Regions from separate parts of the Homo sapiens genome. Here region 2 is linked to region 1. The links come from fine-mapping of genetic effects on gene expression. A gene starts in region 1. The other region holds a variant in brackets. All regions are shown on one strand. Distances are between the middles of the regions. Region 1 holds the start of DOCK6 (dedicator of cytokinesis 6). Region 2 overlaps TSPAN16 (tetraspanin 16).

Region 1 (5,369 bases):
CGCAATCTCAGCTCACTACAACCTCCACCTCCTGGGTTCAGACGATCCTCATGCCTCAGCCTCCCGAGTAGCTGGGATTCAGGCTCCCACCACCATGCCCGGCTATTTTTTGTATTTTTAGTAGAGACGGGGTTTTGCCATGTTGGCCAGGCTGGTCTGGAGCTCCTGACCTCAAGTGATCCACCCGCCTCGGCCTCCCAAAGTGCCAGGATGACAGGGAGCCACTGTGCCCGGCGGGTTGTGGGAGGACTTTGGCTTTTACCCTGAGTGAGGTGGGAGCCATGGAAGGTTCTGAACAGAGGAGGGAACTGAAGTGATGCAGGTGTTCCCAGGCTCTTCCTGGCCACTGATGCAGGAACAAGCTGGGGGGAGGATGAGAAAGGAAGCTGGGAGACCGGATATAAAGGGGGCTGGACTGGAACTAGGCTAAGAAATGTGCAAATCTTCGCTCATCTGCATATTTCCTGCCCAGCCTAGCTCCCAGCAGCCTGAGAGGCAAGGCGGGGACACTTGGTGGGGCATGGCGGGGAGTGATGGGCGGAGCTCCACCTGGCCAAAGTGGCTGGACCACTCCGGGCAGGCACGTGGGCTGTGTGCACATGTCACATGCCAGGCTGTGAGCAGCCCTACTGCGGCCTGACTAGCAGGATGCTATCCTGCGTCTGACTGGCAGGGTTTGGGGGTTCCCCTACAATCCAGGCCTCTTTCCTGTGGGTTCAAGGTCTGACATGGATTCATTGGGCAGCAAGGCAAGAAACTGTGTCTCGGGGGTGCATGGTGACTCAGGGTGGGCATGTGGCTCATTCCTGTAATCCCGGCACTTTGGGAGGCCGAGGCGGGTGGATCACCTGAGGTCAGGAGCTCCAGACCAGCCTGGCCAACATGGTGAAACCCCGTCTCTACTAAAAATACAAAAAATTAGCCAGGTGTGATGGTGGGTGCCTGTAATCCCAGCTACTCGGGAGGCTGAGGCAGGAGAATCGCTTGAACCTGGGAGGCAGAGGTTGCGGTGAGCCGAGATTGTGCCATTGCACTCCAGTCTGGGCAACAAGAGCGAAATGCCACCTCAAAATAAATAAATAAATAAATAAATAAATAAATAAATAAATAAATAAATAATAGAGGATAAAATGCCAGCAACCCATAGATGGGAATGAGAACAGCACGTGCAAAGGCCCTGAGGCAGAGCCACGGCCTTGTCTGATTCAACCTCAAATTCTCCCTGGGGCATTTGCTGACCAGGGAAAGAAGGGCTGTCCAGGAGGAAGGACCTGCCGGTGCAGAGGCATGCAGGTGAGAAAGGGGTGAGCTCCTCCAGAGGGGAGTGTCGGCTGGAGAATTCTCTAAAAATGCTGCAGCAGTGCTGGGAGAGAGGCCAGTGGGGAGAGATTTGAGACCATAGATTAACCAAGACATCCCCACCTCTTCCTCTTGGTAGAGGCGGCCCCGAAAGTCTAGACTCCCAAACTGGCTCACTCAGGTCCCACCACCTGGACCTGGGGCACATCTCCGAGCACTCCAGTGCCTAGCCAGGCTCCTCTGACTCCCATGCTGTAGACTGGGAGCACGGACAATGCAGGCGCTGGAGACCCCTGTGAGTCACACTGAGCAAGCACCCGAACACCTCTGTGCCTCAGTTTACTCATCTGTAAAAGGAGGAAAACAATAATTTCTTCTGCATGTGTGAATTGCAGGGCCAGGCTCAATGACATCTTAGCAATTAGACTTTTTGAGACAGGGTCTCGCTCTGTCACCCAGGCTGGATTGAAATGGCACAATCACAGCTCACTGCAGCCTTGACCTCCCAGGCTCAAGCGATCCTCCTCCCTCAGACTCCCAAGTAGCTGAGATTACAGGCACACACCACCATGCCTGGTTAATTTTTGCATTTTTTGTGGACACGGGGTCTCATTATGTTGCCCAGGCTGGTCTCCAACTCCTGGGCTCAAACAATCCTCCTGCCTTGGCCCCCCACAGTGCTGGGATTACAGGCATGAGCCACCATGCACGGCCACGATTATACTTACAGGTATGATTATTAGATACATGAACATCGTTATTGTTTTCCAGCCAGGAGTCAGAGGGCAGAAAGAGCGCCCCCCAAACCCCGGAAATCTGGGGCCTACCCAGCCTGGGTCCCAGCGCCTCCCCTCCCTCCCTCCCTCCTGAGCTTCAGTTTCCCCAGCCCTGCTCCTGGGGTGGTAAGACCACCCCACTAAACCCCGGGAGCCTGGGGTCCACCTAGCCCGGGTCTCAGCGCCTCCCTTCCCTCCCTCCCTCCTCAGGCTCAGTTTCTCCAGCCCAGCTCCCAGGGTGGAAAGAGCGCCCCCGCCAGCTCGGGAGTCTGGGGCACCCCCAGTCTGGGTCCCAGCGCCTCCTCTCCCTAACTTCCCTCCTCAGCCTCAGTTTCCCCAGCCCTTCTCCTAGGGTAGAAAGAGCGTCCCCCCAGCCCGGGAGTCTGGGGCCCGCCCAGCCTGGATCCCGGGGCCTCCTCTCCGTCCCCAGCCTCAGTTTCCCCAGCCCCCAGGACTCCAGGCGACCCCTCCGGCCTGCAGGGGCAGCACGGAGCGGCCCGGGCCACCCGGAAGGGCCCCGCCCCCGCGCCGGCCCCGCCCCGCCCCGGCTGCCCAGAACCGGGAGGCGGCGGCGGCGGCGGGGCCGGGGCCCGGGGCGGCGGCGGCGGGACGCGAGGACCATGGCTGCCTCCGAGCGCCGCGCCTTCGCGCACAAGATCAACAGGTAGTGTGGCCGCGGGGCCCCCTCCCACCTCCCCCACGTGGCCCGGCTCCGCCCCGGGGCGGTGCGACCCTCCCCGCCCGGGCGCCCCCAATTCAACCCCTTTCCGCCTCGGCCCGGGTCCCGCCAGCTTCCTCCGGCCGGGGCTGGGAGCGGGAGAAGGCGGGGAGGGCCGCGGGGGTCCCGGCGGGGGTCCCAGATGGGAGTCGCGTCGGGGCTGGGAGCGCGATGGCGGCTGCCGTTCTGCCTCCGTGACGCGCGGGGGTGTGTCCGGAGGGCTTCCCGGAGGAGGTGGCGTGGGGATGCGGATGACGGGCGCCCCCTGAACTCCCTGCGCTCCCCGTCCGCCTCTCGGCCCCTCACTGTCCCCGCGCTCTCGGAGATCGGGGTGGGCCGGACTTTCTGTTCCTTCCTCAGTGCCTGGTTTGGGGCAGGGAGGCTCCAGGCTCTGAGATTTGGGGACAGAGATGGGCTCCTTGGTGGCGTTTGAAACCCCTCGAGGAGTTTCCCGTGCCCTTCCCCCTCCAGGGTCCAGTGCCCAGCTGTCGGGGGGGGGGAAGGGGGACAGCTGTGGACGCCCCCCCACCTTCTGCTTCAGGCTCTCCCGTCACGGGCTGGACCGCGCTGGGGATGGATGGGTGATTGAATGGAGGGAGTGGGGGCTGGGGACAGAACCAGCTGGTGGGCAGACGGGGGAGGGGACAGGCCCCAGGCGCTGGGGGATCCATTTCCGTGGCCACTGGGGATTGTGAGAGTCACAGCCTGGGAGGGGTATATCAGACTCTCTGGGGCTGAAAAGCCTCGCCCCCAGTTGGCGGGGGGTCTTTGCGACAAGGGTGCGTTCAGAAGCTCAGGTATCCTCTCCCCGGGGGACCTGTCCTGACTGCCCCCAGGTGAAAGAGCTGCCCTGTGGGTTGGGCCCTGGTCTTATGGAGACAAAAGATCCCCCTCTTGGGATATAGTGGCGGAGAGAGACCAGAAGCCTGATCGAGTAGATTACCTGTCAGTGACAAGTGCTGTAGGGACAAGAAGACAGGGAAGGGGGATGGGAGGGTGGGGGCTGCTTGAGATGCGGGAGGTGGGTCAGGAAGGCCTGGATGAGCAGGTGCCTTTGAGCAAAAACCTCAAGGAGATGAGAGAGGGATCGATCGAGGCCAGTTTGTGGGGGGAAAGAGTGGGAAGGGTTTGTGCAAAGGCCCTGAGGCAGGAACAGAGAGCTGGAGGGGGACAGTAAGAGTAGAATGTACAGGGTCGTGTGGGCTGTGCAAGGGACTTTGACTTTGGACCCCAGGTGAGGTGGGAGCCATGGGGAGTTCTCAGCAGAGGAGGGATGAGACTTGGTGGCTGGGGCGTAATGGCTGGGCAATTTTTATGTTCTATCATTATCTTTGTCTGTAAATTGGCTTTCAAAATGTCTTAGACCTTTGGCGTCTTTGAGGCTGCAAACATTATTGCTGTCTGTTTCTTTTTCTTTCCTTTTCTTTTTCTTTTCTTTCTTTCTTTCTTTTTTTTTTTTTGAGACAGAGTCTCGCTCTGTCACCCAAACTGGAGTGCAATGGCACAATCTTGGCTCACTGCAACCTTCGCCTCCTGGGTTCAAGCGATTCTTGTGCCTCAGCCTCCTGAGTAGCTGGGGTTACAGGCGCCCACTACCACACCCAGCTAATTTTTGTATTTTTAGTAGAGAGGGGGTTTCACCATGTTGACCAGGCTGGTCACGAACTCCTGACCTCAGGTGATCCGCCCACCTCCCAAAGTGCTGGGATTACAGGTGTGAGCCACTGCACCCAGGCTTTTTTTTTTTTTCCTTTTCTTTTTTTGAGACAGGGTCTTGCTCTGTCACCCAGACTGGAGTGCAGTGGTGATACCTTGGCTCACTGCAGTCTCAATCTCCCGGGCTCAAGTGATCCTCCTGCCTCAGCCTCCCAAGTAGCTGGGACTACAGGTGTATGCTGCAACACTCAGCTAACTTTTTAACCTTTTGTAGAAACGGGATCTCACTATCTTGCCCAGGCTGGCCTCAAACTCCTGGGCTCAAGTGATCCTCCTGCCTCGGCCTCCCAAATGCTGGGATTACAGGCGTGAGCCATTGCGCCCAGCTTGCTGTCTGTTTCTTTGCATTTTGGTCTGTATGTCCTTGGGTCCTGGTTTTTACTCAAGTGAGAAAGAGGGGTTTTGGATACTGTAGAGCTCAGGGTAAGAGTAGAGAATGATCCTGGGGCCCTAGTGAACTGTGAGGGAGTGGCCCAGGGCTTCCAGAGCAACTTCGCTCTTGGGCACCCAGGTGTCTACATACTCAGAGCTGGTCCTATATTCATCTGTTCATCCATTCAGTCATTTATTCCACAAATACCAGATTAACCCGAATATTAGACAATCTTCCAGCTACTCCAGAGGCTGAGGCAGGAGGATCACTTGAACCCAGGAGGTGGAGGTTGCAGTGAGCAGAGATCGTGCCACTGCACTCCAGCCTGGGTGACAGAGTAAGACTCTGTCTCAAAAAAAAAAAAAAAAAAAAGGCCGGGCGCGGCGGCCCAGGTCTGTAATCCCAGACTTTGGGAGGCCGAGGCAGGTGGATCACCTGAGGTCAGGAGTTCGAGACCAGCCTGGCCAACATGGTGAAACTCCGTCTC
Region 2 (5,369 bases), 55 kb before region 1:
AGGTGCTGGAAGGGTGGTGCCCCCCTCCCCAAGAAAGGGTGTGGAAGTGCTGCACACCATCCCCCACACATTGCCCTCTTTATCACTTCCATTTGGCTGTTCCTGAGTTGTCTCCTTTTTTTGTTTTTTTGTTTTGTTTTGTTTTGTTTTGTTTGTTTTGAGACAGAGTCTCGCTCTGTCGCCCAGGCTGGAGTGCAGTGGCGCGATCTCGGCTCACTGCAAGCTCCGCCTCCCGGTTCAAGCGATTCTTCTGCCTCAGCCTCCGGAGTAGCTGGGATTACAGGGCGTGTGCCACCACGCCCGGCTAACTTTTGCATTTTTAGTAGAGACGGGGTTTCATCATATAGGCCAGGCTGGTCTCAGACTCCTTACCTCGTGATCCGCCCGCCTTGGCCTCCCAGAGTGCTGGGATTACAGGCATAAGCCACTGCGCCTGGCCTGAGTTGTCTCCTTTATAATAAATCAGGAGTAGTAAGTAAAACACTTGCCTGAGATCCGTGAGTCATTCTAGCAAATTATCAAACCTGAAAGGGAGGGGGCTTGTGAGAACCCCCCCTGACTTTGTAGCCACATTGGACAGAAATATGGGTAACCTGGGAACTCAATACTTGATACCTCTGAAGTGAGGGAAGCTCAGTTTTGTGGGACTCAGCCCTTAAATCTGTGGGGTCACACACCAACTCTGGGTAATTGGTGTCAGAACTGAATTGTAGAACACCCAGCGGGTGTCCACAGAGAATTGGAGAATTACTTGGTGTGGAAAACCCCACATGTTTGGTGTCAGAAGTGTGGGTAAAAAAGTTTATTTCTGGCTGGGGGCAGTGGCTTACGCCTGTAATCCCAGCACTTTGGGAGGCTGAGGTGGGAGGATCACTTGAGGTCAGGAGTTCCAGACCAGCCTGGCCAACATGGCAAAACCCCGTCTCTACTAAAAATACAAAAATTAGCCGTGTGTGGTGGCGGGCACCTGTAACTCCAACTATTCAGGAGGCTGAGGCAGAAGAATCGCTTGAAACCAGGAGGCAGAGGTTGCAGTGAGCTGAGATCGTGCCACTGCACTCCAGCTTGGGCGACAGAGCAAGACTGTCTCAAAAAAAAAAGAAAAAGAAAAGGAATTAGATAAACCACCATTTTGCAACCTCTTCTGAAAGAATTGGTTCAGGATGCTATGGTCATTGAATGAACCCCTGAGTTCATTGATGCTCAGCTGTGACCATGACTATATCTTAAAAACCACTAGGATCATCCCCAGACCCACGTCACAGCCCAGTTCAATTAAATTAGAAGATCAGGATCTGGCCGGGCGCAGTGGCTCACGCCTGTAATTGCAGCACTTTGGGAGGCTGAGGCGGGCAGATCACGAGGTCAGGAGATCCAGACCATCCTGGCTAACAAAGTGAAACCCCGTCTCTACTAAAAATACAAAAAATTAGGCTGGGTGTGGTGGCTCACACCTGTAATCCCAGCACTTTGGGAGGCCTAGGGGGGCGGATCACGAGGTCAGAAGATCGAGACCATCCTGGCTAACACGGTGAAACCCCATCTCTATAAAAATACAAAAAATTAGCCGGGCATGGTAGCGGGTGCCTGTAGTCCCAGCTACTCGGGAGGCTGAGGCAGGAGAATGGTGTGAACCCAGGAGGCGGAGCTCGCAGTGAGCCGAGATCGCGCCACTGCACTCCAGCCTGGGGGACAGAGCGAGACTCTGTCTCAAAAAAATAATAATAATAATAAAAGATCAGGATCTGTGGTTCAGGTTTAGGTAGTTTGTTAAAGCTTCCAGGTGATTCTAATCTACAGCCAGGGCTGGTAACTCATGCTTTTCAGGAAATATGTGGACAAGAGGAACAGGGTAAATAACCAAAACCACAAAGAAAGCAGTAAGCCCAGAACATCTGGCACTCCCCAAGCATTTCACACTTTTTTTTTTTTTTGAGACAGTGTATTGCTCTGTCGCCCAGGCTGGAGTGCAATGACATGATCTCAGCTCACTGCAACCTCCACCTCCTGGGTTCAAGCAATTCTCCTGAGGTCAGGAGTTCGAGACAATCCTGGCCAACATGATGAAACCCCGTCTCTACTAAAAATACAAATATTAGCCAGGCATGGTGGCACATGCCTGTAATCCCAGCTAGGCAGGAGGCTGAGGCAGGAGAGTCACTTGAACCCGGAAGGCTGAGGTTGCAGTGAGCCAAGATCGTGCCATTGCACTCCAGCCTGGACAACAAGAGCGAAACTCCGTCTCAAAAAAGAAAAAAGAAAAAAGAAAAAAAATTAGCTGGGTGTGGTGGCGCATGCCTGTAGTCCCATGTACTTAGAAAGTTGACATGGGAGACTCCCTTGAGCCCAGGAGTTAGAGGTTACCCTGAGCAACAATCACATCTCTGCACTCCAGCATGGGTGATAGAGTGAGGCCCTGTCCCTTTAAAAAAGTTTTGAGCCAATTAGGAAGACTCAACAATGGCCTAGGTATTAAGGGATGCCAAACAAGCAATGTTAATTATCCTAGATGTGATAACGGTGTTATGGTTGTGAACGCAAATGAACATATCGTTAGAGATGTGTACTGAAATATAAAGGGAAGAAATGACATTGTCTGAGGTTTGTTTTTTGGAGGGTTTTGTTGATGTTGTTGTCTTGTAGAGATGGAGTCAGGCCAGGCACAGTGGCTCACACCTGTAATCCCAGCGCTTTGGGAGGCCGAGGCAGGCGGATCACTTGAGGGCAGGAGTTTGAGACCAGCCTGGTGAAACTCCATGTCTACTAACAATACAAAAAATTAGCCAGGCGTGGTGGCAGGCGCCTGTAATCCCAGCTACATGGGAGCCTGAGCAGGAGAATTGCTTGAACCCAGAATGTGGGAAGGTTGCAATAAGCCGAGATCACACCACTGCACTCCAGCCTGGGTGACAGAACAAGACTCCATCTTAAAAAAAAAAAAAAAAGGCGGGGGGGGTCTTGCTATGTTGCCCAGGCTGGTCTCAAACTCCTGGGCTCAAGCGATCCTCCTACCTCAGTCTCCCAAAGTGCTGGGATCACAGATGTATCACCACAAAAAAATGATAAGTGAGCCTATAGATATGTTCATTAGCTTGATTTAATCATTCCACATTGTATGCATATATCAAAACATCACATTGTACCCTATAAATATATATAATTATGACTTGTCAATTTAAAAAAGAAAAAATACTTTATCAAGGGTAAAAAGGGGATT[G/C]ATAAAGCAAATATGTCAATCTTTGCATTGTTGAACCTGGGTGATGTGTATGTTTCTCTGGATGGATGTTCTTGGCTTTTGTGAAAGTTCTAGATTTTTCACAGAATAATTTACAAAACTGGCTGGGTGCAGTGGCTTACACCTGTAATCCCAACACATTGGGAGGCCGAGGCAGGTGGATCACCTGAACTCAGGAGTTCAAGACCAGCCTGGCCAACATGGTGAAACCCCATCTCTACTAAACATACAAAAAATTAGCTGGGCATGGTAGCGAGTGCCTGTAATCCCAGCTACTCGGGAGACTGAGGCAGAAGACTCACTTGAACCCCGGAGGTGGAGGTTGCAGTGAGCTGAGATCGTGCCATTGCACTCCAGCCTGGCAACACAGCAAGACTCTCTCAAAAGGAAAAAAAAAAAAAAACCACACACACACACACACACACACACACACACCAAGAATAATTTACAAAACAGGAAAGTTGTATGAGAAAGGGCATAGTCTCTCATTCAGGCATTTTGAGGTAAAATCATTGCCAAAAATGAAAGTAAGGAGAAAGAAGTCAGGCTGGACAGGGGGTTCCCAAATCTTTTATTAACAGTCTCCCCTCCAGAAGCAGTGAGTGCCACAGAGAAATAAAACTGAGACTGAATCTCCAGCAGCCAGATGGGCCCAGGTGTCTCATCTTCTCCAGGCCTGGGTGTCAGCCCAGCTTGATAAACAGCAGCAAAGTGGCAAGAATTCCTGGCAACTGAAATGCGTGAAGAAAGAAACATGGATCCAATGCTAGAGACCTCCAAACCAGAATCATACTGGAGTTACGGGGACAAGGGGAGCATCCTGTTCCAGAAAGGCGAGGGGCAGGGTTTTACAGATGGCTGAAGAACCGCCTGGGCTAAGTTGGAGCCACTGTGGTTACAGTGCATTCGTCTCCACTTATTTTTTATTTATTATTATTTTATTTATTTATTTATTTATTTATTTTTGAGATGAAGTCTCCCTCTGTCGCCCAGGCTGGAGTGCAGTGGCGGATCTTGGCTCACTACAAGCTCCGCCTCCCAGGTTCACGCCATTCTCCTGCCTCAGCCTCCCGAGTAGCTGGGACTACAGGCGGCCGCCACCACGCCTGGCTAATTTTTTTGTATTTTAGTAGAGACGGGGTTTTATTGTGTTAGCCAGGATCGTCTCGATCTCCTGACCTCGTGACCTGCCCACCTCGGCCTCCCACAGTGCTGGGATTACAGGCGTGAGCCACCGCGCCTGGCCTATTATTATTATTATTATTATTATTATTATTATTATTATTGAGAAGGAGTCTCACTCTGTTGCCCAGGTTGGAGTGCTGTGGCACTATCTTGGCTCATTGCAACCTTCATCTCCCGGGTTCAAGCAATTCTCCTGCCTCAGCCTCCCGAGGAGCTGGAATTACAGGCGCCCAGCACCACGCCCGGCTAATTTTTGTATTTTTAGTAGAGATGGGGTTTCACCATGTTGGTCAGGCTGGTCTCGAGCTCCTGACCTCAGGTGATCCATTCGCCTCGGCCTCCCAAAGTGCTGGGATTACAGGCGTGAACTACCGCGCCTGGCCCATCCTCTCCACTTCGGCCCTCCCCGGAGCCCTACGGACCATATTCCCCAGACTCCACTGCCACATAACTTCCGGTTAGGCTTGGCCAATAGGAAGCACCGGGAGAAGACGGGTGAGCGGGAGGAGAGAATGGTAGGGTATTCCTTCCCCACTTCCTCCCTCTTTTCTTCCCCTCCTTCTGGGCTCCTACCCTCTTCATGCCCTTTCTAGAGCCTTCAGGCCTAGGAGAAATAAAAGTTCCCCATGTCTTTAGCTCCTGGGCGCCTCATTTCACTGAACCCTGTCACCCCTCTGCAAGGAGGCCCCTGAAAACATCTTAAATGGACCATCTGGGGGCTGAATGCTGTTTCCTGCTGGGATCCTTGGGGAGGAAGGTGTTGTATAGTTTACAAGTACATATTCAATATTATAAATTTGTACAATGAAAAAAATTACCCCAAAGAAATAAATATCCCAGACTGGTAAGATAGAGCCTTGTCTCAGTTAGTGGCGATTTGCAGAAAAGACACTACTATGTTGGTAGTCAATGTGCAGAAAGCATGTAGGAAAAATTTCTTGGGCAACCA

Evidence for each region.
Region 2: its variant is fine-mapped to the expression of DOCK6 in T cells (TOPMed, PIP above 0.99).

What each region holds. Positions count from the first base shown.
Region 1 is chr19:11,259,767-11,265,135 of GRCh38, reverse strand. It overlaps DOCK6 (dedicator of cytokinesis 6), which reads left to right and starts at 2,612. Exons shown (of 48, transcript NM_020812.4): 1 at 2,612-2,739. The coding sequence starts at 2,696. RefSeq lists silencers at 2,528-2,687, 2,758-2,817, 2,898-3,037.
Region 2 is chr19:11,314,388-11,319,756 of GRCh38, reverse strand. TSPAN16 (tetraspanin 16) reads right to left here. Exons shown (of 7, transcript NM_001282509.2): 7 at 3,790-3,966. The coding sequence ends at 3,919. The region is part of intron 1 of TSPAN16-AS1 (TSPAN16 antisense RNA 1); the gene reads left to right. Among named protein-coding and RNA genes, the nearest start is that of TSPAN16-AS1, 4.3 kb to the left of the region's middle. The variant G/C (reference allele first, on the strand shown) is at 3,218.